Homo sapiens: one gene and its partners. The protein of the gene in region 1 interacts with the protein of each later gene in a pairwise test. Each region holds a gene or a part of one and is shown in the gene's direction. Other genes may lie near its edges.

Region 1 (8,775 bases):
CACACAACTCTACCATATTTAAAATTCTTCCAACTTAGTGTTTTTACTTTGCACGTAAAGCATAATTATGTATATTGATTTTTAATCTCCTTCAAGACCTTGAAGTGGGGTATATTCTTTTGATGGTAAATAGTTTTATATTTCCATTTTAATTCACTTAGTCTAATATGTTTTTATATACTGGTCTGTTCAGAGCCAAAGATAATATAAACTGTATAAATGCTTTAAGTGTCTAGGTCAGAATCACCACTGTAGATACTCAGCATCTACCAGTGATTACTGAATCCTTGTCTGGTAGGATTTCAGTCTAGTTGCGGCTGTCCAACCAAAGGAGGTCTCCACTACACCTGCTTTCTTTTTTCTTTTTTTTTTTGAGACAGAGTCTCGCTCTGTTGCCCAGGCTGGAGTGTAATGGCGTGATCTTGCCCCACTGCAACCTCTGCCTCCCAGGTTCAAACAATTCTCCTGTCTCAGCCTCCCGAGTAGCTGGGACTACAGGTGCCCACCTAGTTTTTGTATTTTTAGTAGAGATGGGGTTTCACCATGTTGGCCAGGCTGGTCTTGAATTCCTGACCTCAAGTGATCCATCCACCTCGGCCTCCCAAAGTACTGGGATTACAGGCGTGAGCCACCACGTCTGCTGGTCTTATATTTTTAGATATCATATGGTCTCAGGAATTTGAGGAATTGTATTGGTTTATTATGTTTGGATCCACAATTATTATTCCTTTTGACACTCAAATTTTTAGTTTTATCCAGTGAACAGTCTCTACCTTGATGCTGGCTCTTGTCTCCTTTTGTCACAACTCCATTAAATTTTGAAAGTGTCCTTGTTCTCTGGCTCCAAAAGAGGCCTAGACTCACTTTGTACTTTCCCTACCACAGAGCTGGAATCAGCCATTTCTCAATCCATTTCCTTTAGTGGAAAGTGAAATTAGAGCCCAAAGTCTGGGCAGTCATTGTTACGGAGGTGTCATTTCTTTTACACTATTTCAGTGGATAGAGTTAGAAGATACATATTTTGGAGGGATGGACATGAATCTGTATCAGAGCTTGTAACAAAAACAATACCACATTTGATACCCATAGTTTTGTTTGTTTGTTTGTTTGTTTTTTGAGACAGAGTCTCGTTCTGTCATCCAGGCTGGAGTGCAGTGGCACGATCTCAGCTTACCACAACCTCCACCTGCTGGGTTCAAGTGATTCTCCTGCCTTGGCCTCCCGAGTAGCTGGGATTACAAGCACATATCCGGCTAATTTTTTTTTTTTTTTTTGTATTTTTAGTAGAGATGGGGTTTCACCATGTTGGCCAGGCTGGTCTTGAACTCCTGGCCTCAAGTGATCCACCCACCTCCACTTCCCAAAGTGCTGGGATTACAGATGTGAGCTACTACGCCCAGCCTAATACGCATAATATTACTATCTCAGGAGAAATCAGAATTCATTCAAATCATGTACTTTTAATGTTTACTGATTAATATGTCAACAGTTACACACAGGATAATAACTGTACTAGTGGTAATTCCATACATTTTCCTACATATTTTACCAGACTGTATTAGCTTTCTTGGATTTTTTTTTTTTTTTTTTTTTTTTTTTGAGATGAAGTCTCACTGTGTCATCTAAGCTGGAGTGCAGTGGCACAATCTCAGCTCACTGCAACCTCCGCCTCCCGGGCTCAAGTGATTCTCCTGCCTCAGCCTCCCGTGTAGCTGGGATTACAGGCGTGTGCCACCATGCCCAGCTAAGTTTTGTATTTTTTTTTAGTAAAGATGGAGTTTTACCATATTGGCCAGGCTGATCTCAAACTGCTGACCTCAAGTGATCCACTCACCTCAGCCTTCCAAAGTGCTGGGATTACAGGTGTGAGCCACAGTGCCCAGCTTCTTGGAGTTTTTTACTGTGTTTGGTGCCCTACTTCTGCACTGTCCTGACTTTATTTAAATGAATATTCCATAAACATTGATTCAACATTATACAATTAATTTTTATAATTTTTAGATTAGAACCCATAATCTACTGTTCTGACAGCTATTGAACAAAATTGTTTATTACTAATTATAATACGTAATTATTCCTCACTACAACTGTTTACCAAAGCATTTCACACATGTTAACTCATTTGGTCCTCACATTAACCCTGTGAGTGATATTTCCATTAGCCAAAGGAAGCAAGCAAAGATAATACTAGGCTGATATATAGAAGCAGCACCATCGTAGTTGTTTATGATGAATGTCCAGTAGAATTAGTCAGGCTTCTCATCAGTCTGGGTGGTGCCCATATCTTACCAGTTAAATATTTTAACTGTCACCCTAAAGCAGGTTTATATAATGTTTTAAATTACTTGCTCCAAGAAGATAGTAAATAACTAGAACCCCAACCCTTCCAATCCCTGTGGTCCTCTTTCCACCAGATCTTTTATTAATAAAAATGGCAAGTTCTCCTTCTATCTAAAATATTAATAAATTTAAATTTATGCAATATTTTTCTTTCTCTAGTAAAATAACAAAAAATTAATACACAAAACAAGAGAGATTGCACCCCCCGCCCCCACCTCAAATTAAGATATGTTCAGCCTGGAAAACATAGTGAGACCCTTTCTCTATAAAAAATTTTTTTTTAATTAGCCAGGTGTGGTGGCATGCACCTGTAGTCCCAGCTCCTCGGTAGGTTGGGATGGGAGGATTGCTTGAGCCTGGGAGGCTGAGGCTGCAGTGAGCCATGGTCACCACTACACCGTAGCCTGGGTGACAGAGCGAGACCCTATTTTAAAAATAAAAAGTATGCTGGGCGCGGTGCCTCACACCTATAATCCCAGCACTTTGGGCGGCCGAGGCAGACAGATGACGAGGTCAGGAGTTTGAGACCAGCCTGACCAACATGGTGAAACCCCATCTCTACTAAAAATACAAAAATTAGCTGGGCGTGGTGGCACGTGCCTGTAATACCAGCTACTCAGGAGGCTGAGGCAGGAGAATTGCATGAACCCCGGAGGCGGAGGTTGCAGTGAGCCGAGATTGCACTATTGCACTCCAGCCTGGGCAACAGAGTGAGACTCTGTCTCAAAAATAAATAAATAAATAAATAAATAATAAAAATAATTAAATAAGTACATGGCACATAGTGTTTGCAATTATTATTATCATAGGAAGTTACCTCAGATACCAAATGCTATTGGATTAAGGGATAGGTGAAATTATTATGTCATATTAATAATAAAAAACATGATAGCCACTATTTAGAGAAAGCTGATGTTTAATATTTCTGTGACATCAATTCACCACTAAAACCCTTGATCTTTCTCTAAATAATAGATGTTAATTTGAGTTTAATGCATGGCTTTGAACATCTTAAGTTTATGAACTGGTACCTAAAATATCAAACTGTCCTGCTTTTGAAAAATCACTTTTATCACTATTTAAATCTCTACACAGATTCACCAGGCATGTAAACTCATCTGCAGAAAATGTAAACGTCATGTGACAGATCTAACAGGGCAAGTGGTACAGGAGGGAACCAGGCGCTACAGACTGTGTAATGAGTGTCTTGCAGAATTTGGCATAGACAGCCTCCCCATTGACTTGGAAGCTGAACAACATCTTATGTCCCCATCAGATGGAGATAAGGATTCCAGATGGCACTTGAGTGAAGATGAGAATAGATCCTATGTGGAGATTGTAGAAGATGGGTCTGCTGATCTGGTCATCCAACAGGTTGATGATAGTGAAGAAGAAGAAGAAAAAGAAATTAAGCCCAACATTAGGTAGCTGTAATGTGAACCAACAGAGCTGGCATGTCTGCAATTTACATTGACTTCCTGTATCTCTCTCTTTCTATGGTCGGAGTCTAGTTAACAAATTTATCACACTGACTTTAAAGAAATGATCTGATATAACTTGCATGCTTTCTGAACAGGCCATTGTATCCATTCTGAACTTTGTTGCCCTAAAATGTGTTGCTGCACTGGAAAGAAAGAACTAGCTTGAGTTGGCTTGATGGATGAACAATTATCCTCTTACTTTCATTACAATCCTCTTACTTTATTCCAGAGATACCTTTTTCTTTTAATATTGGAGGATCTACTTAGCAAACTTTTTTCAAAGAAAATACTTTAAATAAATTCACCACAACCAAACTTTATGTAAGACAATTTCAAGGTGTTTCAAAAACACATAACTACCAATGTTTAATTTCACAGGGAACCAGTTAAGAGCACATTTAAGGATCTGGCAACCCACCTTACTAAACAAATTAGTCTTTCTATTAATTTGAGATCTGAAACAACCTGTCATTACTCTGATATCCTGAACGTTTAAGGATTATGGAAGAAGACTAAAGTGTTTGAAATCATTCATATTTGAAATTTTTATCATTAGCTTAAAAATTACTCTCAGTATTGTTAAAAAAAAAAAAAAGTAGAGGCTGGCCAAAGATTATATACAGATATTTTCTTAAAGCAGGAAACTAATGTTGCCTAAAAGTCAAGGTAGTTTGTGAAGACAATCTGTCAATATGGTTGTCCATCTCTCTAAAGAAAAGCAGGCTGGGCGCTGTGGCTCATGCCTATAATCCCAATACTTTGGGAGGCCGAGGCAGGCGGATCACAAGGTCAGGAGTTTGAAACCAGCCTGGCCAACATGGTGAAACCTCGTCTCTACTAAAAAATACAAAATTAGCCGGGCATGGTGGCGGGTGCCTATAATCCCAGCTACTCGGGAGGCTGAGGCAGGAGAATCGATTGAACCTGGAAGGCAGAAGTTGCAGTGAGCCGAGATCACACCATTGCACTCCAGCCTGGGCAACAAGAGCGAAACTCCGTCTCAAAAAAAAAAGGAAAACAAACTAGGAGGTTCTTACCATATGTGAGTGATTTCTAACGTTTATGTAGTGCTATATTATTTATAAAGTACTCTCTCATGTATTTTCTCAGTGAGGTGGATACTATCTCCGATTTACAAATGAGGAAATTAAGGTCAGAAAGTCTGAGAGAGAAAACTGATGATTGGACAGGATCTGATTTTAAACAATCCTCTTTCAGCCTTCTCTCCCTGTATGTCTCCTGAAATGGCAAAGAATAGAAGTCAAACCTCACCAGTTGGCAGTCATTATAAAAATAAGCCAATCAGAATTAGAAAGTATGAAAGGAGGAATTGAATCATTTTCAACAACATACAATATCTTGATCTAGAGATTTTCAAATAATGCTAAGTAATGTCCCTACAGTACCTATTGGTATGTTTTTATGTCACGTTATTTATATGTAAATTTAAAGTATAAAACTATTTGAACAAATTATTCACTTAAATATGTTGAACATTTTTGCTTCTCTTGTTTATATAATATTTTCAAAACAAACTTTTCTCCTAGTATACAAAGTTTAAACTTCTCCCCTTTGGGCTGGGCCCAGTGGCTCACGCCTGTAATCCCAGCACTTTGGGAGGCTGAGGCAGGTGGATCACCGAGGTCGGGAGTTTGAGACCAGCCTGACCAACATGGAGAAACCCCGTCTCTACTAAAAATACAAAATTAGCCGGGCGTGGTGGTGCATGCCTGTAATCCCAGCTACTCAGAAGGCTGAGGCAGGAGGATAGCTTGAACCCAGGAGGCAGAGGCTGCGGTGGGCTGAGGTTGCGCCATTGCACTCCAGCCTGGGCAACAAGAGCGAAACTCCGTCTCAAAAAAAAAAAAAAAAAAAACTTCTCCCCTGCATAAATTATGAAACATTCCAAAATTACAGCTAAATTAGAGAAGCATTGTTTCAGTTCTAAAGGTAAAATCTAAATATCCGAAGTAAAGAACTGAGCTTCATAAAGGTCTCTTCTGCAAGTTATCACAGTGAAGCTTGATAGAATTTCACTGTATATGGAGAGGCTCCATCTATTTTACTGTTTTCTTTTTTGTTTTTGTTTTTTTTTCGAGACGGAGTCTCGCTCTGTCGCCCAGGCTGGAGTGCAGTGGTGCAATCTCAGCTCACTGCAAGCTCCACCTCCCGGGTTCTCGCCATTCTCCTGCCTCAGCCTCCCGAGTAGCTGGGACTTACAGGCGCCCACCACCACTCCCAGCTAATTTTTTGTATTTTTAATAGAGATGGGGTTTCACCGTGTTAGCCAGGATGGTCTCAATCTCCTGATCTCGTGATCCGCCCCCCTCGGCCTCCCAAAGTGCTGGGATTACAGGCGTGAGCCACTGCGCCCAGCCAATTTTACTGTATTTTTAAATGCCATGACATACCTCAAAATTATCCTTTTTATGTTACTATTTTCTCTTGTTCTTTCATTAATTATTGTCCTTGATACCAATTTCTAGGCTAAATTGGTTACTTTCTTTTAAAAAATTTAAAAATAGATGAATAACCACTTGTTTCATGGTACTTAATTGAGACTTTTTCAAGATTCCCCTGATGGCACATTTGCAGTTGCTTCAAGACTGGATGATGTGCATTGAGTTCTCTGTTCTCCCAACATGGCTGTTCCTAAATCAGGATTCTGGTTTTTTTGAGATGGACTCTCGCTCTGTTGTCCAAGCTGGAGTGCAGTGGCGTGATCTCGCTCACCACAACCTCTGCCTCCCGGGTTCAAGCGATTCTCCTGCCTCAGCCTCCTGAGTAGCCGGGACTACAGGCATGTGCCACCATGCCTGGCTAATTTTTGTATTTTTAGTAGAGACAGGGTTTCGCTATGTTGGCCAGGCTGGTCTCGAACTCCTGACCTCGTGATCTGCCCGCCTCAGCCTCCCAAAGTGCTGGGATTACAGGCGTGAGCCAGCACGCCCGGCCTAAATCAGGATTCTTAACAATTAAAGTGTATCTGAATGAGGAAGGAAACGCTTGTCATTCTCTAGTCTTACCCAATTAATACTGACACCTTTTGAAATTAAAACCTGATTTTTTAGTTGTTGGAGCCAGTAGGAAAAATGGCTGATTTGAACTTTTTTCCTATAAATGAAGTAGTGCTTGCATGTGTGTACTCTAATGCACTTTAGTCTATGATCTAAATGTCCTTTTATGCTATTATCTTCTGCATGCAAACTTTACATACATCAGCATGAATATCCAACATTCACTGAACACAGTGCCACCAGCACTTGTAATTGCCTTTTCAGAAATAATGCTTTCTCATAATTGTTTATAACGAGCATCAAACTATCCCCACAAAATGATCAAGTTCACCAAACTAGACAAAGAATCTGTTGTATCATTTTAACATCATAGAAGAACATTTAAGACATGTTTGTAAGTTGTAAATAATGACTCCAGTTATAGCATATATATCTAAGACGTTAGAGACCAGTTATTTTCTAGAGTGAAACTGTCTATTGATGATTGAGAAAATTGAATTCTTTGGTTTTTACATGTGGGCAAATGTTACATAGGGGTATAATCTGTTTAAATAAGCTTTATTTATGCCAAGGATTTTTTTTTTAATATCAAGACTTGGTTAGACCAAAGTTTGCTCTTGCAGGAATGCCATTTATCAGCTTCTGAATGCCCTTCTAACTCCATTACCCTCAAGAGTGTCTGGGTATAGGATGAAGCATTACAAAAAGAAAGCACCACTGCAGTCATGCCTAGTGTCTGGGAGAAACAAAATGGACTAGACCTGCAGTTTAAAATAATTTAACCCGAGAAACTCTTCAAATGAATTGTTTCCTAAAGATGCTCAAATTTAAGGGATAAACTCTAAAATCAGAGCTGCTGTGGTTAAAGTCCCCCACAAACCTTTCCCCAGACACCTCTGCAGAACTCAGGTGCACAATGTTGAAAACCATGGAATTAGACAACTTCCTGAATTCCCTTTGAGCCTTGCAGCCTCATTTCGTTACTCCTGTTACTCACGGTGCTTATAAGCAGGTAACCATATGGTCTCTTAGTGAAGCAAATCACATCCTTAGCACATGATGTTCCTTCTATGGGTATCAGATCTTAAGACTTTTTAAAATTTAGGAACAAATGTTTCAATATTATATTTTCAGTAATGCAATCAAAATAAGCATAGTTACTGTTTTCTGTACGGCTAAGTACTGCCTAATGGATGAAAGAAGTTTGGTGCTTCAATTATTTATGAGCTCAGAACTCAATTCATTAAAGTTATTTTGCCAAGTCATGCCAAGATATATTGAAATTTCCACTCATATTGGTTTTTAAAATTTTTTTTAGTCCTAAAATTAATAAGTATGGAAAATCACTAAAAGCAGTGTAGGATAAGGTGTGTTTAACTGGCCGGGCACGGTGGCTCATGCCTGTAATCCTAGCACTTTGGGAGGCCGAGGCGGGCGGATCACTTAAGGCCAGGTGTTCGAGACCATCCTGGCCAACATGGTGAAACCCCGTCTCTAGTAAAAATACAAAAAATAGCTGGGCATGATGGTGGGTGCCTGTAATCCCAGGTACTCGGGAGGCTGAGGCAGGAGAATCGCTTGAACCCGGGAGGTGGAGGTTGCAGTGGCCGAGATCGCACCACTGCACTCCAGCCTGGGTGACAGAGCGAGACTCCATCAAAAAAAAAAAAAAAAAAAAAAAAGATGTGTTTAACTGGGAAGGGTGATAATAATAGAATAATAGGTACAGGAGGACCAAACTTTAGATTATAAACCAGAAAGTTTTGTTATTTTATATAAGTGTATCAGTATTACTATTTATCATTTATATAGCATTTTATATTTGCAAAGTGTTTAATAATTTTTGTTATTCTTTACATATATATGAAATAGGACAGTTATCCCACATGAACGGTAAATAAATTGAGGCACAGAACAGTAAAAAAACCTCAGGGTCA
Region 2 (8,952 bases), on another chromosome or scaffold:
ACTTACTGCTGAGATAAAATGAGGCAACGGAAAAGGCAGGCAAGCCCACTGCCCCCCTCAGCACCCCCACTGACCCCGGGCAAGCCCACTGCCCCCCCATCCCCTCACTGACCCTGGGCAAGCCCACTGCCCCCCCATCCCCTCACCCCGGGTAAGCCCACTGCCCCTCCCGTCCCCCAACTGACTGACCCTAGGCAAGCCCACTGCCCCCCCATCCCCTCACCCCGGGTAAGCCCACTGCCCCTTCCACCCCCCACTGACCCCGGGCAAGCCGACTATTCCTCATGGACCCCAGGCAAGGCCCCTGCCCCCACCATGGACCCCAGGCAAGTCCCCCCACCCACGCATTTCTAATCATCTGCCCTGGTTTTGCCTCCTGAGTCTGCTAAGGCTGTGGGCCCCTCATCGAGGCCCGTCACAGCCTCGACCCTAAACAGGCCTTTAGTGCTCACTCAGCTTCACTTGCAACTGCAGGCCTCTGGGAAGTGGCCGTTTTACAGAGACAAGGACGTGCTGAGGGGATCGCCTCACCCATCTCCCACCGGCTGTGTCCCCAAAGTCCTGCCTTCCCGTAGCTTGGCATGGAGCACCTCTGCGCGACCATGGACCTGCTCACACAGCCCTTCTGCGCGCCGTGGGAGCTGCCTCTCTGTGACTCGCCCCTGGACCCACCGCCCCAGCGCCTGACCCACCTCCCTGCTGCCCTTCACAGAAAACTTCTCATAGACTCCCATTTTCTCATCCCGCCCCGATTTAGCCCCCGACTCCCCCCGGAAACTGCCCTTACCCGTCCCCACCTTGCCAGACACGGTGGGCCACTGGAGTTCCTCTGTCTTCTGGGACTTTGCTCTCCCCAGGGGATCCTCTGCCACTCCTCCACCCAACTCCTCAATCTTGGAGCGCCAGAGCTCAGCCGAGCTCACCGGCTCCCTAGGGAGCTGGGGCAACTGTTAGCTCCCCCTGACCTGTGTGATCCTACGTCCAGTGGCTGCCCCGACCTCTGTGATCCCACGTCCAGGGGCTCCCCCGACCTCTGTGATCCCACGTCCAGTGGCTCCCCCGACCTCTGTGCTCCCACGTCCAGTGGCTCCCCCGACCTCTGTGCTCCCACGTCCAGTGGCTCCCCCGACCTCTGTGCTCCCACGTCCAGTGGGTCCCCCTGACCTCTGTGATCCCACGTCCAGTGGCTCCCCCTGACCTCTGTGCTCTATGTCCAGTGGCTCCCCCTGACCTCTGTGATCCTTTGTGCAGCGGCTGCTGGCCTCTCAAACTTAATGTGTTCATTGCGGAACTTGCTATTCCTCTCCTTGCCAGTTTGCTCCTGCCCCATCTGCCTCCTGCAAGTCTGCTCTGTTCCACCTTCAGGACGCACCCCGAGGCCGTTTACTGCTCCCATCCTGGGTGGTCTGGCCACTGCCATCCTCAGTCCTCACCTGAGGCTCCACTCCCAGGCTGTCCTCTCCCTCAAAGCTCAAAGTCTCTTCAAGTTTCCCTGCACACCAGAACGGCCCCAGTTCCACCCAAGGCATGCACACAGCCCCACCCCGCCCACTCCTATTTCAGGGCCTTTGCACACCCCACAGCTGGAATGCTGCCCCACGTCTGTGCCGCTCACTGGAGCCAGTGTCTTGCCACACCCCAGTCTCCATCTTCTTATCCACAACGCTGGTCCCTTCCTGCCACTATATCACACTGAGTGTGGGCTGGTCCACCTACTACAAATGGTCAGGCTAGAAGGATACAAGAGACCCCCGCCGAAGCCTGGCACCCATCAAGGGCTAGGATGCCCACAATTTGTCCAGCATGGAGGAAGCAGCAGGGCTCAGCCATGCCTTTTTCTTTTTCTTTTCTTTTTTTTTTTTTTGAGACGGAGTTTCGCTCTTGTTCCAGGCTGGAGTACAATGGGGTGATCTCGGCTCACTGCAACCTCTGCTCCCGGGTTCAAGCAATTCTCCTGCCTCAGCCTCCCGAGTAGCTGGGACTACAGACACCCGCCACCAGGCCCAGCTGATTTTTTAGATTTTTAGTAGAGACGGGGTTTCACCATGTTAGCCAGGATGGTTTCGATCTCCTGACCTCAGGTGATAGCCCGCCTCTGCCTCCCACAGTGCTGGGATTACAGGCGTGAGCCACCGCGCCCGGCTGGCTGAGCCGTACCTTTAGTGGTTTCCACTTCTTCTAGTAACACCTGGGAGATATAGTGGATGCTCCTCAGGTATTCCGTGTATGCCTCCTGTGTCCAGGAAAGAGAAAGAGTGGGGTCAGGCCAGTGGAGGGAAGTGACTCCATTATTCCGGCCAGGTGCCCTTGTGGGATAAGCAAGGAACACCACCACCTGCTTATCTCTGAGATACACCCAGAGACATTGAGCCTGCGGTGGTTAGCTGCAGCCGGAACACGGTTTTCTGCGCAGGGCACAGGCAGCATCGCTGCTCTCCAGACTTGGAAAAGACATCAGGACCTGAGAGAGAGAGAGAGCCAGGGACGAGCTGGACCTCATTTTCTCCTCTGACTGCCTTTCTCTCCAGCACAGGAACTGATATTCTCATTCAGTGGGCCTGGGGAAGTGACCTCAGCAGTTTGCTGTCATTTTTCATTCTATGCAATGTTTCCTTCTTGTGCAACTCAAGGGTGATTCATTCAGTGGCTTAAAAAAATACTTTTCTGAGAGGATAAAGGGAGTGATACTGGAAGTTTTCAAATCACTTCCCGGTTTAAGTTCCGAGAAATCCCTTTCCCAGAACCTGCGAGTTACGTATTTCCAGTGCACACAGGAGCCTAGAACTGTTACCTTTCAAGGCTGTGTGACCCCTCTGACAAGGCACAGGTCATTGGAACCACAGAATGGTGGTTTGTTTTGTTTTGTTGAGACAGAGTCTCACTCTGTCGCCCAGGCTGGAGTGCAGTGGCAGGATCTCGAGTCACTGCAACCTCCGCCTCCTGGGTTCAAGTGATTCTCATCCCTCAGCCTCCCAAGGAGCTAGGATTACAGGTGTGCACCGCCACACCCAGCTAATTTTTGTATTTTTAGTAGAGACGGGGTTTCACCACGTTGGCCAGGCTGGTCTCAAACTCCTCACCTCAGGTGATCCACCGCCTGGGCCTCCCAAAGTGTCAGGATTACAGGCGTGAACCACAGCGCCCAGCAATATGCTATGTTTTTTTGTTTTATCCCTAGCTGTTAAGTTTCCTATCTTTAAGTCTATGCCTCAGAGAGAAAGACGAAATATAATCCAGGCAGGATTTCTGACTTGCGGGGGCACCTGCTGCCCTAAAAACCAACTTGGGGAAAGCAGCAGATTCAGGAACGAGGCTTCTCCTAGGCACAGGCAGGCTCCTTCCCTCCTTGGGCAGCCGGGTGTGGCTGGGCCAGCTTCTCTACCTGGTCGCCAACCTTAGATTCGGCCCCATCTCAGGAACGGGCCACACCCCTCCGGCCTGCTTTTCCTTCCTAAGACGACTGCAAACAGCATCACAAATGAGCAGGTATGTGGCCTTCTCTGCATGCCGTCCCCTGTGGCAACCGGATTAAATCTACCATCTCTGCCCAGAAAAATGCACGAACGCACGGACCTGCCCGTCACTCGGATTTTGGAAGGTGGCCTGGCGGACCCTCCTGCTACATCTCCTCTACAGGTGGAGCCCAGGCTGTGATGCACCGGCTCAGCGAGCGGAGTGGAAAGCCAAGGTCCGCAGGATCTGAGCTGTCCAAGGTCACTGCACGCCCGGCTGCGCCCCGCCCCCGTCCTCGCCCGGGAACCGCGGCCCGGGATCCCGGCTGGCGCCCGCTCCCAAGTCTCCAGCCCGAGCCGGCCCCGTCCTCGCCCTCCCCGGGCGGGGGTCCCTCCAGGGGCCACCCTCAGCGGCCAAGCCCCGCCCCCGCCCCGCCTCACCCGGGGCCGGTTGCCGGTGTCCAGCTCGATGGCCCCGTTGGCAAGCTTCATGGCGCTCTGCAGCGGCTTCACCGTGCCGTCCCCGGCCGCAGCGGCCATGGCGCCGAGCGGGGGAGGCGGCGGCGGTAGCCGAGGGGCTGGACGGGCGACCGGAGGCCCGGAACGCAGCCGGCGCTGGTGCTGGAGCCGCCCGAGCAGCGGACCGCAGGAAGGGACGCGGCCGCACTTCCGGCGACGGGCCCCCTCCGCGCGTACTGCGGGCCCCACGGGTGTTAGTGGCGGGGGCGGCAGAGTCCGGGTGGGTTGTCGCGACGGAGCCGGGCCTCTTCGCCGTCTTGAGACGGGGCTGGCGAGAAGGGCCCCTCACGGAGTTGCCATGGGCGTCTAACCGCGGCAGCCAGGCCCCTCTCTACGTGAGACCCCGGCCCCCCTCCCCTTTCTGCAGCCCGCCCGCCACCTGCGCGCCGCGTGGCCTCCGCCGGCGCCTGCCCGCCCCGCGCCTCCGTCTCCCACGGTAAGAGGCGGTGAGGGCCGCGTCGCCTCTCCCTGGAGGACTCGTCGTGAGGTGTCGGCGAGCCCCTCCGCCCACCGCCCCGCCCCAGGCCAGCGCTCCATTGGCGACAGAGGCGGGCACGGCCGCCCTCGGGCCCGAGAGGGGAGCGGTACGAGCGGGGGCGCTGGCACCGCGGGTGGAACCTCGGCCGGCGGGGTCCCGCCCCTGGCCCCTGGCCCGCCCCGCCCGCCTCGCTTTGCTTCTCGCTCCGCCCCTCCCCCGCCCCGCCTCGCTTCCAGCGCGCCGAGCGGAGCCTAACGCCGGGTCCTCTAGGAACCTCGGGCCGGGCAGCACCCGCGGGATTCTGCTGGCGTCCTCCGCTGCCATGAAGCGGGACCGGCTGGGCCGCTTCCTGTCTCCTGGGTCGTCCCGACAGTGCGGGGCCTCGGACGGCGGCGGCGGCGTCAGCCGGACTCGGGGCCGCCCTTCCCTTAGCGGTGGGCCGAGGGTGGACGGGGCGACGGCGCGGCGCGCCTGGGGCCCGGTGGGGTCCTGCGGGGACGCGGGCGAGGACGGCGCGGACGAGGCAGGTGGGTCCGCGGCCCGGGCGTGGCGGGTTGGGGTCGCGGCAGGGGTTGCTCGTGGGAGGAGCCGCACTGACGCCCGGAAGCCGGCGCGGCCTCTCCTCCACCCGGCCAAGGGCGTAGCGGACTCGGGGCTGCGTCGGGATAGGCGCTGGGCGGCCGGCTCGGTTTTCCTCGCGCTCCGTGACGCCGGCGTCGCCGGCCCGGCCTCCCCGGCCGCGGGCTCGGCCAGAAGGGACCCGGCGTGAGGAGCGCTGTCACCGCGGGCAGGTCGCCCTGGGGTGCCCGCGCGTGGGAATCGCCCTCCCCTGCTTCGTGCCCTCGCGGAGCCGGAAAGGAGGCGGCACCTGCAATTGGCAGACAGGAAACCGCGGCGTTTCCTGGAGGGCGCAGCGCCTGCCCCGGGTCTCGCGGTCGCTGGGAGGAGGGTGCAGTTCCAGGTTTCACTCTTGAAGTTGCTTCGCTGGAGAGGCCTTAGAGGCCTTTGAAATTTGAAAGATTTCTTGGACCAGCGGCCACATCCCCCACAGGGCGGCTTGTCCCGCCGAGAGCCGCGCGCCCGAGCCGCTTGCTGTGTCCGGGAGCCGCGCGAAGGGCGCTGCAGGCGCTGCCCTCGGACCTGGAGTCCGGGACGCCCTGTGCTCAGGAGCCTCCTTTGCCAGCTGCTAACACTTCCTGCCGCTCTGTGCAGGAGCAGGCCGGGCTCTCGCCATGGGTCACTGTCGCCTCTGCCACGGGAAGTTTTCCTCGAGAAGCCTGCGCAGCATCTCCGAGAGGGCGCCTGGAGCGAGCATGGAGAGGCCATCCGCAGAGGAGCGCGTGCTCGTACGGGACTTCCAGCGCCTGCTTGGTGTGGCTGTCCGCCAGGACCCCACCTTGTCTCCGTTTGTCTGCAAGAGCTGCCACGCCCAGTTCTACCAGTGCCACAGCCTTCTCAAGTCCTTCCTGCAGAGGGTCAACGCCTCCCCGGCTGGTCGCCGGAAGCCTTGTGCAAAGTACGCCCTAGTCTGTTCAGAGCACGTTCAGGCTGTCAGTACTGCAGTGTGACGGGTGTTGAGAGAGGGACAGGGCGTGCCTCCGCGGGAGCCTCTGGGTGGGGGGAATGGGCCATGCCCGGGTTCAGTGCCAACAGCCCTGGGACTGTTGTGGAGAGATGAACTGGGAGGAGCTGGGGTGAGGGAAGAGAAAGTTGCCTATGGGGACCGCTGAGGTTTGAGATCTCGAGAGGGTCCCGTACGACGAGCGCTGTGAACCTCCGCCTGCTTGTCCTGCTCATGGCCACACTGATCCTTTGCAGGGTCGGTGCCCAGCCCCCAACAGGGGCAGAGGAGGGAGCGTGTCTGGGTGAGTCCTCCCCCGGTGGAGGGTGGGCTGGGTGCCGACCAGCCGTGGATCTGACATCTCTGTTGACTCTCTGCAGTGGATCTGATCACATCCAGCCCCCAGTGCCTGCACGGCTTGGTGGGGTGGGTGCATGGACATGCGGCCAGCTGCGGGGCCCTGCCCCACCTTCAGAGGACACTGTCCTCCGAGTACTGCGGCGTCATCCAGGTCGTGTGGGGCTGCGACCAGGGCCACGACTACACCATGGATACCAGCTCCAGCTGCAAGGCCTTCTTGCTGGACAGTGCGCTGGCAGTCAAGTGGCCATGGGACAAAGAGACGGCGCCACGGCTGCCCCAGCACCGAGGGTGGAACCCTGGGGATGCCCCTCAGACCTCCCAGGGTAGAGGGACAGGGACCCCAGTTGGGGCTGAGACCAAGACCCTGCCCAGCACGGATGTGGCCCAGCCTCCTTCGGACAGCGACGCGGTGGGGCCCAGGTCGGGCTTCCCACCTCAGCCAAGCCTGCCCCTTTGCAGGGCCCCAGGTAGGAGGCACCTCTTGCTGGTGCTAGACCAGGATGTGTGCTCCTCAGTGGGGCAGGGTTTTCAGCAGAAAGTGAATGTCTCCACTGCTCTAGGTGGTGGCTGGGGTGTGGTGTGAGAAGGAGCAGAGCTTGGGGCTTCTGCCTGCGGCTGCTCACCACATCCAGAGAGCAGGGAGGGGCGGCCAGCCTGTCTCCGCCTCTTGCTCCTCTGTGAGCAGGGCTCTGTTCCAGCAGTTTCTGTGGAGACACGCTCATCAGCCGTCGAGTCTTTTTCTAAGCCTGTGCTTGGGGCTGAGGGGACTGAGGAAGAGGGAAGAATAGGGCCTTGTCTGTGGATGTGGGAGAAAAGAATGGCCGTTGCCTCTGCGGCTGCTGCCCTGGGCCAGCTGCAGGTCATTTCCTGGCACTCAGCCAGCCGCCTGGTGACACCCTGGTGTGGGCCAGTGTGGCGCAGCTTTCTCTGCTGACAGGCTGAGGGGAAACACAAGGCCCTTGTTTGGGCCCCAGAACCCATAGCACTGTGGGCTGGTGCAGCTGCTCCTGGATGTTGTTTTAGGAGGGCCAGGGCCAGTTTCCCTCCGGCCTCTTGTCCTGTGTGTGCTCTGTGCACCTGTCCCCACCTGAGCACTCAGTTCCCACTTTGAGTCTTGAGGGGAGCTTCCGAAAAGCGTAGCTACCTGTAATCCCAGCACTTTGGGAGGCTGAGGTGGGTGGATCACTTGAGGTCACGAGATCAAGACCAACCTGGCCAACATAGCGAAACCCCATCGCTAATAAAAATACAAAAACTAGCCAGGTATGGTGGTGGGCATCTGTAATCCCAGCTACTCTGGAGGCTGAGGCACGAGAATCACTTCAGCCTGGGAGGCGGAAGTTGCAGTGAGCCGACATCGCACAACCGTACTCCAGCCTGGGTGACAGAGCAAGACTCTGTCCCAAACAGAAACACAGCTACCCAGATAGTTTAGCTAGATACGGGTGCACAGATGAGACAGTGCGGCTCGGGGGCCTCAGGTAGGAACGGGATTGTGAGTGTCACATCTTAGAGCTGCTTGGCTCTGTAAACTTGTATGCAGTGTGTTGAGAACAATTCTATCTATCTGTGTATCTATCTACCTACCTACCTATCTATCTTCCTACTTCTTTGTCTCTCTCTATCTACCTACCTATCTGTATATCTATGTATCTACTTATCTACCTATTTATCTATTTATTTACCTACTTATCTATCTATCTATGTGTTTATTTATTTTTGAGACAGAGTCTCGTTTTGTAGCCCAGGCTGGAGTGCGGTGGTGCCATCTTGGCTCACCGCTACCTCAGCCTCCCGAGTAGCTGGGATGACAGGCACATGCCACCACGCCCACCTAATTTTTGTATTTTTAGTAGAGATGGGGTTTCACCATGTGGGCCAGGCTTGGTCTCGAACTCCTGACCTCGTGATCCACCTGCCTCAGCCTCCCGAGTAGCTGGGATGACGGGCACGTGCCACCACGCCCACCTAATTTTTGTATTTTTAGTAGAGATGGGGTTTCACCATGTTGGCCAGGCTTGGTCTCGAACTCCTGACCTCGTGATCCACCTGCCTCAGCCTCCCGAGTAGCTGGGATGATGGGCACGCGCCACTACGCCCACCTAATTTTTGTATTTTTAGTAGAGATGGGGTTTCACCATGTTGGCCAGGCTTGGTCTTGAACTCCTGACCTCGTGATCCACCTGCATCAGCCTCCCAGAATGCTGGGATTACAGGTGTGAACCACCGCGCCCAGCCAAGAACAATACTTTTTAAAACTTATTTTAGGCCAAGTGCAGTGGTTCACGCCTGTAATCCCAGCACTCTGGGATGCTGAGGTAGGCGGATCACGGGGTCAGGAGATCGAGACCATCCTGACTAACACGGTGAAACCCCATCTCTACTAAAAATACAAAAAATTAGCTGGATGTGGCTGTGGTTGCCTGTAGGCCCAGCTACTTGGGAGGCTGAGGCAGGAGAATCGCTTGACCCTGGGAGGCGGAGATTGCAGTGAGCTGAGATTCTACCACTACGCTCTGGCCTGACCGACAGAGCAAGATTCTGTCTAAAAAAGAAAAAAACAAAACAAAGAAAACTTA
Region 3 (8,775 bases), on another chromosome or scaffold:
TGCTACACTGATTATGTGACTTTGCAGTCTAGGATTTCTTAACAATCTGGTTAAGGGAATAGTAGTTTTCTAAAAGTGTTTGGTGTGTACCACATATTTGGAAAATAAAAATAAAAGCCATACGTTGCCAGAAGTTTACATATCTTTCTTTCATGATCTATTATATTTATTATAACATTTAACTCTCAAAAGGCAGATTTTTTTTCTCTATGAATACAGGGTGGGGCACCCTTCTTGTTGCATCAGTGTGCTGCCTGCAATTTGTAGTTATATTGCATAAGACCATGTTGAGAGTTCTTTTTTGCATGTAATTCTAGAGCTAGAATGACTTTAGCAAGTATGTGGCTTGTCATCCTTATTTTTTAAGTGAGAAAACAGGGCCTCACAAATATTTTTGCTTAAAGTTAGTAGCAGAGCCATAGCTGGAATTCATATCCTTCGATTCCAAGTATAATGTCCTTTATGTCATTTCTTTCTATGTTGTTTTTCTCAAAAACAGACATCTTTTTGCCCCATCTTTCACCACTGCTTTGTTCACACCTGGGAACCACAAGTTTGTGGAACTCTCTTCTTATTGCAAATACCTGTTATCTTTTATCCAGGAAAAAAAATCAAATCAATTTCTAGTAGATTTGATCACTTGGACTTCTCTATTTGACACTTCCTTAGCTCTTTTTCATTTTTTGGCCTGGCTTTTTATTACCTCTTCAACTTTCTTATTAACAATCTCTATATTTTCATTTATATTCATCTTTGTTCCTAATTCTGTTGTGCTCCAAAAGAGAATTCTTTTGTATCTTTAAACTCATTCAAGTAGTGACCTAGACTGAAAGAATACTACAGACACCTTCTGTAGATGAATTACCATGAGATTAGCATCTTCAAGTTTTAAGAATTCTTAAGATGAATAGACTTTTCATGTTTTATTAGATTTTATCCTTATATTATGAGAGGAAAAAATACACAGATCTTTCTTAAGAATAATAGTTATCAACATTCTAGATCAGAGTTATTCTTTTTACTTATTTGTCCTGTCAGACTTTCATAATTTAAAATAATAGGTCTGTAGACAGTCACTTTCTTACACCTCATTTACTTTTTTTTTAAATTAAAGGCAAGTGGTCAAACTCTAAAAATCAAAAAACTTCATGTCAAAGGAAAAAAGACTAATGAGTCAAAGAAAGGCAAGAAGGTAACTTTAACAGGAGATACTGAAGATGAAGACTCTGCATCTACAAGTAGTTCACTAAAAAGAGGAAACAAAGACCTCAAGAAAAGAAAAATGGAGGAAAACACTTCTATTAACTTGTCAAAACAAGAAAGTTTTACTTCAGTTAAGAAACCTAAAAGAGATGACTCCAAGGACCTAGCTCTTTGCAGGTATTATTTCCGTTTTCATGCACTGTATATTTATAATGCCCCATTTTATTTGTTTAGAAACCTTTTACCATATTAAAGCTTTCTTTCTGATAATTTATGTAAATAAAAAAATGTAAAGCATAAATGTTAAGAAAATATATAAGTAAAAGTATAGTAAATGTATTCCTTTATCTTCTTTTAATGTTAATTTGCATTGAGTTTTTATTTGAAAGATTATAATTGGGCCTGGCACAGCGGCTCACACCTGAAATCCCAGCACTTTGAGAGGTCAAGACAGGTGGGTCACCTGAGGTCAGGAGTTCAAGACCAGCCTGGCCAACATGGTGAAACCCTGTCTCTACTAAAAATACAAAAATTAGCTGGGTATAGTGGCGTGCACCCATAATCCCAGCTACTCGAGGGGCTGAGGCAGGAGAATCACTTGAACCCGGGAGGCAGGGGTTGTAGTGAGCCGAGATGGTGCCACTGTGCTCCAGTCTGGGCGATAGAGCAAGACCCTATCTCATATATATATATATATATATATATATATATAAAATATATATATATATATATATATAATATATATATATATAATATATATATATATATAATATATATATATATATAATATATATATAATAACTGAAAGCTTTTTTAATTAAAAAATAAGACAGTTGTAAAGTATGGATACTGATTTCAAACATTATTTTCTTTAGTATGATTCTGACTGAAATGGAAACTCATGAGGATGCATGGCCTTTTCTACTTCCTGTAAACTTGAAACTTGTTCCTGGTTATAAGAAAGTTATTAAGAAGCCTATGGATTTTTCCACAATTAGAGAGAAACTAAGTAGTGGACAGTAAGTAAATCATTTCAGTTCACTAAATATTTATTGAATACCTGATATATGCTAGGCATATTTTTAGTGAGCCAAAGATATTTTAATTAACAGCAAGATATAGGCCCTGCCTTTGAGGCAGGTGTGTGTGTGTGTGTGTGTGTGTGTGTGTGTGTGTGTGTGTGTGTGTGTGTGTGTGTGTGTGTATTTGGTTAGAGTAGAATAGTATAGAAGAGAAACCAACTAAAATTATTTAAGAAATTAAAAACCCGTGTAATAAACCTGCTTTTGACATTGAAAGAGCACCACAAACCCAAGCTGAAGGTAAGGAAAAGTATCAGGAGAGCCTCCCAAAGTAAGTAACATATAAGCCGGAATTTGTATTTTGCATCCATGGAGTATCAACCACACGTCATATGGATTTAACAAAAATTGACTCAAATATTGTTAGATTATCACAATGTAGAAATAGAAGATCTTTGGAAGCTTTACATATTAAGAGCTTTAATGTGAGTTATTGGAGAATACCAAAATTCCATTTATTAAATGCGGGAGAGAAAGCTTATTTGCTTTTCTCTACCATATTCTCTTTGCAATCCTATTCCAAGAATAAAGTTACTTACTTTGGGAGGCTTTCCTGATACTCATACAATATATATTTTAATTACATTGTTATTATCCAGTATATTATTTAGTTCTTCCTATACATTCTTTTGGTGAAAATAACTGTTCTCTATGATTTATATTCAATTTAGAAGAGTTAAATAGAACTTATAATGATCAGCATCCCTCACATATATCAACTGATTTACTAGATTGACCAAATGACAAATTTATTTCTTTGGAGGATGAAATAACAGCCGTCCAAAGGTTTATGTCTGTTTTGTTTTATTATTTTTTAATTACAGAAGGGACCTGCCTAAGTTAAGGAAGCGTTTAAATGATTGATTGGTACTGATTGGTTCCAATATGCAAACACTGTTACCTAGATATGGACTAGTTCTTTTGTTTGTTCTTTTTTTTTTTTTTTGAGAGAGTTTCACTTTTGTTGCCCAAGCTGGAGTGCAGTGGTGCATCTCGGCTCACTGCAATCTCTGCCTCCCGGGTTCAAGTGATTCTCCTGCCTCAGCCTCCCAAGTAGCTGGGATTACAGGTGCACGCCACCATGCCTGGCTAATTTTTTGTATTTTTAGTATAAACAGGGTTTCACCATGTTAGCCAGGCTGGTCTCGAACTCCTGACCTCAGGTGATCCGCCCACCTCCACCTCCTAAAGTGCTGGGATTACAGGCGTGAACCACCTCACCCAGCCTCTTTTGTTTGTTCTATCAAAATAGTTGTCTAGGTAGATGGCACAATGAAATTTATAACTAACATGGCCAAGAAAAAGAATTACACATGAAGACTTTACTAGTATTTAAATTAACTCTTGATTTTAACTTCCATGATCTTCCAATTCCTGGATAAAAGATTAACGTAAACCTCAAAATTCCTAAAACAAATAGGCTTAGAAATATTTATAACAAAAAAATGCTACAAAATCATATGGGCCAGGCAAGGTGGCTCACGCCTGTAATCCCAGCACTTTGGGAGGTGGAGGCAGATGGATCACTTAAAGTCAGGAGTTCAAGACCAGCCTGGCCAATATGGTGAAATCTCATCTCTACTAAAAGTACAAAAATTAGCTGGGCATGGTGGTGTATGCCTGTAGTCCCAGCTACTCAGGGATGAGGCACAAGAATCACTTGAAACTGGAGGTGCAGGTTGCAGTGAGTTACCTCGCCACTGCACTCCAGCCTGGGCAACAGAGTGAGATTGTCTCAAAAAAAAAAAAAAAAGCTACAAAATCAGAGCTCCTTTGAAAAATGAGTCCCAGTGAATGGAGGAAGTCACAGGGGAAGAGAAAGAGAGAAGGAAACAGTCTGTGTATTCCTGTTTGTGATGCCAGGTGTGTGGGAAGCAAAATTTCAGTGGATTCAAGCTCCTCGAACTCTCCACTTTGAGTTGTTTGATTAAACCCAAATTAATGAGTTGGAACCAAAACTCACAAACCATATTTCAAATTTTTAAACTAGAAATTTTTAGAATAGAGGGAGGGGCCTACTTACATGAATTTTTCTGAGTTCCATTAGCTGCCCCATCCCATAAAGGAAGGACACACATATGAGTTGTATACTTTTTTCACCTAGAATCTCACCTAGAATTCTCTCCTGGACTCCACTCTCCCTAATGTTAATCATTAACCTTTTCTTAGGGTAAGGAACAAAGGCAGAAGTAGTTCTCAAATCAACTTTAAAATATTTTGTAAAAATCATTCCCACACAGATTGTATGATTCCATTTAGATGAAGTATCTGGAATAGATAAATCCATAGAGACAGATAGAAGATTGGTGGTTGCCAGGTACTGGGAAGAGGGAGGAATGGGGAATAACTGTTTAATGAGTATGATGTTTCCTTTCAGGGTGATGACAGTGTTTTAGAAGTGACGATAATACAGTGTTGTGACTTAAATGCCACTGAACTGTCCACCTTAATATGGTTAATTTTATGTGAATTTCTTAACCTCAGTAAAAATAAGCAAGTAATTCCTAGGAAAATGGATGAGGTTACATAAGGGCTGACTTAACTCTGTGAGCACATTACGCATAGAGAAATATTTCTTTCATTATCGCACAGAAGAAGCGAGTGAAAGGTCATACAAGATATTTCACCAAAGAAATAGAATTCCACTTTGACAAGATCTCACAGCGTCAGTGCCTCATAGGGTATTTCTCTTTTTTTAATTTTTATTTTAATTTTTGCAGGTACACAGTAGGTGTATATATTTATGGACTACATGAGATACAGGCATGCAATGCATAATAATCACATCATGGAAAATTGGGTATTCATCACCTCAAGCATTTATCCTTTGTGTTACAGATAATCCACTTCTACTCTTTTACTTATTTTAAAGTGTACAATTAAACTATGATTGACTATAGTCTCCTTGTTGTGCTGTCACATACTAGGTCTTATTCATTCCTTCTATTTTTTTGTACCCATTAACTATCCCCACCTCCCCACTGCAGTTCCCAGCCTCTGGTAACCATCCTTCTACTCTGTTTCCATGAGCTCAATTGTTTTGATTTTTAGATCCCACAAATAAGTGAGAACACGTGATGTTTGTGTTTCTGTGCCTGGCTTATTTCACTTAATATAATGACCTCCAGTTTGATCCACGTTGTTTCAAATGACAAAATCTCATTCTTTTTTTATGGCTGAATGGTGCGCCATTGTGTTTAAGTACCATGTTTTCTTTATCCATTCGTCTGTTGATGGACACTTAGATTGCTTCCAAACCTTGGCTATTGTGAACAGTGCTGCACCAAACATAGGAGTGCAAATATCTCTTTCATAAACTGATGTCCTTTCTTTTGGGTATATACTCAGCTGTGGGATTGCTGGATCACATGGTAGCTCTGTTTTTAGTTTTTTTGAGGAACCTACAAACTGTTCTCCATAGTGGTTGTACTAATTTACACTCATGAGATATTTTTAATGGTTACATTATTTTAGTATACAGATTGTCATAGGTTAGAATTAACTTAAAATTTGCATTTCTAAAAGCTATCTTTTAAAATGTATTGAACTGGCTTGAGTTGGTTTGAAATGACCATTCCCTTCTTACTAATAAGCTTATGCAGATTCATTCACCTTTCTTTTCTCTTTTCTGTTTTTCTACAGAGAAAGAGAATTGGGCTTATCCCGCCAGAAAAGCACAGAAGCCACAGTGCTTCTTGTTGAAAGACAGACCCTCATAATGTTACCTCTAGTAGAAAGATAGCATATGCTTGTTTTGCTTGTTTGGGTTCATCATACTCTATTGCTTGGGCAGAAGAGCACATATGAAGAGAAGAGAAATGGGAAATGGGGAAGACAACGCAGAGCACCATATCTTGGGGTGTATATAGAAGCTACAGGACAAGTGTAATTTTTATCATTGCATGGGGAGCATTGACATAATTTCTACTGCAGCTGAGCATTTTTTAATATGGATAATAGGATTCTGCAAGTGATACATTTGGTCAGAGAACTTAATAAACTAGTCAAGTGGGATAGGTCCTGTGACAGAATTGTGTGATACAGGTCAAACAGGAGTTGGGTTATGGGGAAAATGCCAGTTGAAATATGTTTTGATCTTTGGAGAAACCTATTTTTTCATTTAACCTGTTCTTTAAATCCAGTATGTTCCAGAACATACAAAAATGTTTAAATGTTCCATTTGTAAGAGGATATCATGTATTTTATATCAATTTAAATGCAGTTATCCTAATCATTTTTCTTTCATTTTTACCCTTTATTAACTCTTCATTTGTTTACAAAACAAATCCACTCTATGAACGCAATCTCTAATTATTTGTTTTCTTTCAGGTATCCAAACCTTGAAACCTTTGCTCTAGATGTCAGGCTTGTTTTTGACAACTGTGAAACATTTAATGAAGATGATTCTGATATAGGCAGAGCTGGCCACAATATGAGGAAGTATTTTGAAAAAAAGTGGACAGATACTTTCAAAGTGAGCTGAAGTTATAATAATCTCTTTATTTTTTTCCTTCTAAACAAGGACAAATGAGACCAGCAATGTGAACTGTATTTACATAAACGTGCAAGGCACATACATAATGACTTTCTTTTTCCTTAAGTATAAAAAAAAAGTATCAGAAGAATGATACCATTTTTAAAGGCTTCATTCCTACAACAACCAAGGCCCTCGGTTATTGGTTTGTGTGATTTATCAGCTAATTTAGGTAGAACAGGGAAGCACACCCAAAGAATTTTCAAAGGAAAGGGTGTTATAGTGCAATAGCAATTAAAATATATCAAATCGCACTGAATACTCAACACCAGAGCTCTAATGTGGGAAATGGTTCTCCTTTCCCTCTCAATAAATATCTATTTTTCATTTTTTTACTTTGTAGTTTATTTTTTAGTGAATGTATTTAATTTTATGAATTATTTATGATTAAACCACATCCAGAATCTTCGTTTTCTGTGAAAAGGAAGAACTAGAAAATTGCTTTAAATCTTGAAAATACAAGGAATGTTTTAAAATATAAAACAAAGCCAAGTTAAACTGTTTACACTGATGTGCTATAAAAGCACCAAAAAGAAACTTTACTGTAGAGTTACAAGTACATTTATATATATATGTTGCTGCATCACTTGTGTAGTTAAATTGTATTTCAAAACAGTGAAAAAATTGACATGTATATACTGTTCATTCTTGTTTATATTAAGTCTTGTTTTAAATATGTATTATGTGTATATATTGTTTGCAGACATTATTGTTCATGCCTTAGAGGATTGTAGCATTTTATTTTCGTCTGAAGGTAATGATAGCTATACAGTCTGTACAGTAATTATCCTCTACCAACACTGTGGCGTCTCCTTAATCTTGGTAGTGCCTGCCTTTGAAACAGGGTGTAGGGGATATTAGTTTTCCATTTTTCTATTTTGTTATATAATTTTAAGCCACCAGGGCCTAAATTAAAGTATAATCATTTGTATCCATGTGGAATAAAATTGTGACAATTTCCTACGCACACAGTATTTTTTCATAGAAACATTTCCCTCCCATTTGCCTTGCCTCAGAAATAAATTTAAAAGACGTTTGTAACCACTGTGTTTTATCTACTGTGTGTTGTGGTGGCCTGTTGGAGGCAAATAGATCAGATTTTTTTTGTACCTACGTAAGAGTACTTGAAGTTTTATTTAAAATAAAATGTTGTGGAAAAGGTAGCATTCTTTTTTTAGGAGTGTTATTTTTCACTATGTGTGGCACGGATACAATAAAAGACTTTTACAAACTAATTTTTTAGTTTTTCTTAATGTACCTGAAAATATATTCTTTTTTAAAAGCCAGTTAATTTAAATTTGATTTTTACAGAGACCTGTAGGAGGAACAGTGTGTAGAGTGTGGTTCAAAGAGCACTGGGCTGGGTGGAAGAGGGTGAGTTTAAGTCAGGTGGCCAAACTTCTGTAGCCTGAAAACCTCTCTGGTCTGCGAACTTCTCCGAACCTTGTCTTCTTTCTTATTTCACATTTTCAAGATGAAAATATTAGAATACATTAGATCTTGTTCTGGTCTGAAAAATGCCTCTATGGGTAGCCAAATAACTCAGTTGTCAAGAAGAAAAACGGATATATAAATTAGTCTAATAAGACATGTATTTCTCCAAGAATTCAAGAAATGCAATTTGCTGCCCTGCTGGGCTCCGCCAGACTCCGGAGAATCATTGGCGTACAAGACAGGCCTTGCCTTCATGGAGCTTATAGCCCCTTGAAGTGGGCCTTAGATAATGTCCACTGCTTTTTATCATGAAGAGAGAATATAGAAATGTTTTGCAAAAAATTTTTTTAACTTCACAAAGCTTCAAAGCCACAGAGTATTTTCAGTATCTCTAGATTGTTTGTGAAGACTTATATGAAAAATCAGCTGTTACTATGTAAATATGTCAGTTTCTGTTAACCAGATATTGCAGTGATGCCTTAAAGGGGCTGGTGCTTAAGCAAAAATGCTTTGTAGAGCAGG
Region 4 (5,697 bases), on another chromosome or scaffold:
TGCCCCAGTCACTGATTGAACAAACATTTACTGAACACTGATGAAGCGAAGTCCTCCTCAGGGACCTCTTAGGGAAGAGGGTAACTGCCCTAAAGCAGGATACTCCTGGGCTCCTTAGATATACTATCCTTGAAACTATTAGGCCCCTGTCCAGAGTACCTAATAATAATAATGGCAAATATGTATTTGGTGGTCTGCCATTTGGAAGCAACATCTCACTTATTCAACAACTCTAAAGGTAGGTACTTTTATCTCCATTTTAAAACAATGAAATACACTTACAGTTACAGACAAACTTGCTCGAGTCACATATCTATTAAGTGTCAGTCAAGATTCAGATTCAAGTCTGATGTTAAAGAGTGTCTGTTCCCAATCAATACCTCTGCTGCCTCTTTTTACAAACTGAACTGTTGGAGGGCATGTACATATGCATAAGCTGTGGGCCACTGGGCCATGGGCCAGTGTCTGATGAGACCTCTTTATTGACTTGTTTGTCCTGGTGGGCTGTTTCTCTACCAGGCAACTGTGAATGGGCTCATCCCTTCTCTGTGCGTACATGATTGAAAGGAGATAGCCGGTTTCTGTGACATCCTCTTATAACAACCTAGTTTTGTTCTTGAGAGTGACCAGAGCAAGAGAAAAGTCAATGAAATTTTGCAGATCTTGCAAACCTGTGGCAATAAGAAGGTATTATCCTTTCTGTACCAAGGCACAACTGATTCCTAAGTGAGGGGGATATGTGTTCTGAGATGTTAATGTTAGTGATAGACTGTTTTCAACACCTTGGTAAACATTTCTTTTGACTGTTAGCAAAAGCTGCCTTAACAGTCTTGGCTTTTAGAAATGCCCCTTCATTCATTAGATGTGTATGGAACACATCTTATGCCAAGCACTCTGCTAGGAGCTGGGTATACAGAGAAGAAAGGCATTCCTGCTCTCATGATGTTCATGGTCTTCTGCGGAAGAGACCAGAAAAAAAGTATTACAATGTAGAATGAAATAAGAATGACAGGGTATTTTGGCAGCAAGGAGGAGGGCACTTTAACTCAAACTGGGCAGTGGAAGAAGTAAAAAAAAACATTGAAAGAAATCCTGAAGGATAAGCAGGAGTTAAGAAGAGTGGATGAAGCCCTCCAAGGGTAAAAGCATGGTTTATTCAGAGCACTGCAAGTGTTTTAGTATGGCCCACATGTAAAGCTTACAGAGGAACAAAGAGAGAAAGGCAAGAGCCAGGAAGTGAAGGGTCCTGTGTATACTGGCTTACTTGTTGAGTTGGAGAACTATTGCCGTATTCCTCTGCTAAGCTCAGGGTGCATTCGTGGAAACCCTACTGCAACTGGCCCATTGTGCATACAAAGCTGGAACTGAGATGTGAACAGATTTGCATTGCCTTGATCACCTTCCGTGGGAAATATAGCTAGGCCCACTTATTGGTAGGAGCTACTGACATGTTAAAACTAGGTTAAACTGAATTGGAAGTAATGGTGTATTTGGAATCATGGCTGACTGATTCCATTACATGTTCTAGCATGATACCAGTCTGAGGTTATTCCCCTTGAACCACCGACTTAGTAGAGTTTAATGCACAATGTGATGGTCTTAGTTCCTTGTACTGTTCTTCAGTGTCAAAGTTGTTCAACTACCAGTTAAGTTTTTTGGGCTTTGTTTCTCAGTAGTGACAATAAATTTGTGTTGATCTATTTACACCTTTTGGACTGAACACCTTAGCAATCATTGATATTTTAAGCCTACAGGAAGTGCCCATGGGATAAAACCAATCTGCTGGCTCACACTAAGTTCTGATCCCATGATTTTGGTCTCATTAATACCGTGCTATAAATAAAGTTAGCTAAATCTTTTGAAACTGCATAAAAGTGAAATAATTATGAGTTTTGGGCCAACATTTTTCCTGAACAGCTTCTGACTGACCAGCATTTTAAATTAGGCGATGCAGTCTAGCTTTTGTACATAGAAATAAGAAAGTGACTTATGTTCCATTATTAAAATAGTATAGGGAGGACAGGTAAATTACTAATTTTTCATTGCTCATAGTAGAGAATTAAGGTATATTGACTAGTGAAATAGAGGATTATGGGGATCATATGAAAATATGATTAAAGAGATTATCACTAGAAGAAAAATTCAGACTGCTAATTATGAGAAAAAACATGTATGCACAACCAAACAAATCACAAAAATGAAAGATGTCTAAAACCATAGAATAGGAACAAATGTACCTGTCATATTAATAAAAGTAAACTTATCTGTAGATAAAAGGCAAAAATGTCAGCAAACACTAATTTCATGTTATAAGATTCAGAAAGGTTGAGCAAAAGTAAACCAAGCAAACACAAACAAGAAAATGAGTTGTAGTCTGCATATCAGGCAAGGTTGAACTTAGGGAAAAGGAACCGGAAAAAAAAAAACCAAAAAAAACCACGACATAATGCTAAAGGGTGTGACTCACGAGATAATGTTTCTAGATATCTGTGTACCAAATAATGGAAAACCATTTATGTATTGGAAACCATAGGAGACACAGGAAGAAACAAATACAATGTTAGTTGGATATTTTAATTCAATTCTGTCAATTCATGACAGATCAAGTGGATAAAAAACTAGGACATGGGATGATTTAAATAAGATACAGAAGATCTAGTTGATGCATATTAGACTTTACCCTAAAAGTGGTAACTACACTTCAAAGTATCCATGAAACATTTCCCCATTTGACTGTGTATTAGAGCGTACAGAAAACATAAGTTTCAGAACGGAAAAAAGGAACAACAGATGGCATTTGCTGATAAAAATGCAATAAACTTAGAATTTGAGGATAGGTGGTCAGAAAAAAAAATGCAATAAATTAAAGCCAGAAAACACTGCTCATCTGCAATCCAAAATGTTTTTAAGCTCTTCAACTATTCTTGGGTTGATTAGGAAATGCAAAGTATTAAAAAAACATTTCATATCTAAAATATAAACTTGTTCCTCTGAGATACAAATAAAACAGTGCTCAGAGGAAAATTCATTGCCCTAAAATTTATGTATTAAAAAATAAGATAAATGTCATATAACTCAAAATATTAGGAAAAGGAATCTTTTAAAGGCAGGCTAAAAGAATCAAGAAAAATTAATTAGAAAAATGAGGAAACAAAGCTAATTTTTAAAATATGTAGTAAAATATGTAACATTTTAGCTAACATTACAAGAGAAGACAAACACAAAATAAGAATTACCAAGTATTGAATAGGTAAGAGTCATAAAATATTCTTTGCTCAACTGTATGCAAACAATTTAAAAACTTGGATTAAATGGATAATTTTCCAGGAAGGTATAGTTTGCCAAAAAATGACATCAAAAGAAATCTAATATAACAATTGTCATAGAAGAAATGAAGTAAGTATTTCAATTAGCATGACAGACTAAATACTTTTAAAGACCCAATGAAAACAAAGAAATGCATTTGGAGAATTAACAGAAACTTTTTGTAACACCAATTTTTTATTTTACATTTTAAAGCATGGAATGGAATTTATTGTAAAGACGTGTATTTTATAGAATCCAAGCAAAAGCTCACCAGCCAGAGATAAAGTGAGGCCAGCTCAGGGAATGTGAGCAGTGGCGATTTATTCCCTCTGGTGTTCCATGTTAGCCTGACACAGAGCCCCCTCTTCACATTCTCAGGGGCTCTTGATCCAAAACCTTTTTTAAAAAAAATAATTTTAGACTTAACAGAAAATCTGCAAAAATAGATTTCCTGTGTGCCCTTCTCTCAGCTTCTTCTAATGTTAACTTACATACCAATGGTACAATTATTGAAACTAGGAAATTAACATTGGCACAATCCTATTAACTACATACTTTATTTGAATTGTAGCTGTTTTCCCAGTAATGTTGTTTTTCTGGTTCGGTATTCAATCCAGGATCCATATGTACTTGGGTCTTTCTGGGTTTTCTGTTCCACTGGTCTACTTGTGCATGGTACCACACTGTTTTAATTATAGAGACTTTATAGTATGTTTTAACAACTGGCAAGGCTAGTCCCCCTTATAATTTTTCCTATTGTGCTTCTGGCTATTCATACATGTTTGTTTTTCCATGTGAACTTTAGTATCAACTTGTCTAAATTCATTTTTTAAGGTACATTGGTATTTTATTGATATTATATGATATTAACTGATTTAGAGAGAACTAACATCTTTAAAATGTGGTGTCATCCTATCCAAGAATAGGAGATGTATTTCCATTTATTCAAGTCTATTTTGTGCCTTTTAGCAGTGTTTTAAAATTATCCTTGTGTAGGTTTTGTGCATTTCTTGCTAAGCTTATCCCTAAGTATTTAATTTATTTGCTAGTAAATGAGATTTCCTCTGCCATTATGTCTTCTAACTGGTTATTGCTCTCTATATAAAAGCTACTGATTTTGTATGCTAATATATCTTGCTACCTTACCTAATTTTTTTAAAAAAATAAACAACAGAAATTTATTTCTTATGGTTTCACAGTCTGGGAAGTCCAAGATCAGGGTGCTGGCTGATTCAATGTCTGGTGAGAGCTTGCCTTCAGGTTCATAGATGGCACCTTCTAATTGTGTCCTCACATGGTGAAGGGAACTAGTTAGCTCTCTGGGGTCTCTTTTATAAGGGCATAAATCCCAATCACTAGGGCTCCACCCTCCTAATCTAGTGACCTCCCAAAGGCCCTGTCTTCAATGCCAACACTTTGGGGGTTAGGATTTCCACCTGTTTTCGGGGGACACAAACATTTATACCATAGCAGTCAGTAACAAACTCTTTTTGTTTTGCAGCCAAAGGTCAGTCAGTTTTATCTTCTTAGCTTAGTATAATCTAAGCCCTAAAACCATGAAATGCATGGGAAAGGTTTTTTTTTCTCTTTTTCAACTTTTATTTTAGATTTGAGGGGTGCATGTGCAGGTTTGTTACCTGGGTATATTGCGTGATGCTGAGGTTTGGGGTATGAATGACCTGTTACCCAGGTACTGAGCATCCGTACAGAATTCTTTTACTTTTGAAGTTAGTTTTATCATTGCTCCTCTAGAAAAACAAACAAAAAAACCAAAAATTATTTCTAAACACCCAGAATAATAATAAGAAATGAAAAAAATCTATAGAAGTAAAAAATGACAGACATTTATGCAGCCAAAAAACACATGAAAAAATGCTCATCATCACTGGCCATCAGAGAAATGCAAATCAAAACCACAATGAGATACCATCTCACACCAGTTAGAATGGCAATCATTAAAAAGTCAGGAAACAACAGGTGCTGGAGAAGATGTGGAGAAATAGGAACACTTTTACACTGTTGGTGGGACTGTAAACTAGTTCAACCATTATGGAAGTCAGTGTGGCGATTCCTCAGGGATCTAGAACTAGAAATACCATTTGACCCAGCCATCCCATTACTGGGTATATACCCAAATGACTATAAATCATGCTGCTATAAAGACACATACACACGTATGTTTATTGCGGCATTATTCACAATAGCAAAGACTTGGAACCAACCCAAATGTCCAACAATGATAGACTGGATTAAGAAAATGTGGCACATATACACCATGGAATACTATGCAGCCATAAAAAATGAGGAGTTCATGTCCTTTGTAGGGACATGGATGAAATTGGAAATCATCATTCTCAGTAAACTATCGCAAGAACAAAAAACCAAACACCA

Evidence for each region.
Region 2: the proteins of ZBTB8A (region 1) and ZNF276 interact in binary tests that used the Homo sapiens proteins (3 or more experiments, as listed by UniProt).
Region 3: the proteins of ZBTB8A (region 1) and BAZ2B interact in binary tests that used the Homo sapiens proteins (3 or more experiments, as listed by UniProt).
Region 4: the proteins of ZBTB8A (region 1) and GPATCH2L interact in binary tests that used the Homo sapiens proteins (3 or more experiments, as listed by UniProt).

The regions. Positions count from the first base shown.
Region 1 is NC_000001.11:32,596,652-32,605,426, forward strand, and holds part of ZBTB8A (zinc finger and BTB domain-containing protein 8A), read left to right. Parts: intron 1-3,435; coding exon 3,436-3,768; 3' UTR 3,769-8,775. UniProt on the Homo sapiens protein: May be involved in transcriptional regulation.
Region 2 is NC_000016.10:89,716,870-89,725,821, forward strand, and holds the start of ZNF276 (zinc finger protein 276), read left to right. Parts: upstream 1-4,667; 5' UTR 4,668-4,771; coding exon 4,772-4,976; intron 4,977-5,661; coding exon 5,662-5,965; intron 5,966-6,267; coding exon 6,268-6,314; intron 6,315-6,390; coding exon 6,391-6,840; intron 6,841-8,952. Other genes in the region: VPS9D1 (VPS9 domain-containing protein 1), read right to left, coding at 2,158-2,233, 3,894-3,992. UniProt on the Homo sapiens protein: May be involved in transcriptional regulation.
Region 3 is NC_000002.12:159,318,258-159,327,032, reverse strand, and holds the end of BAZ2B (bromodomain adjacent to zinc finger domain protein 2B), read left to right. Parts: intron 1-1,114; coding exon 1,115-1,380; intron 1,381-2,078; coding exon 2,079-2,222; intron 2,223-6,614; coding exon 6,615-6,768; 3' UTR 6,769-8,054; downstream 8,055-8,775. UniProt on the Homo sapiens protein: Regulatory subunit of the ATP-dependent BRF-1 and BRF-5 ISWI chromatin remodeling complexes, which form ordered nucleosome arrays on chromatin and facilitate access to DNA during DNA-templated processes such as DNA replication, transcription, and repair.
Region 4 is NC_000014.9:76,209,987-76,215,683, forward strand, and holds the end of GPATCH2L (G patch domain-containing protein 2-like), read left to right. Parts: 3' UTR 1-4,357; downstream 4,358-5,697.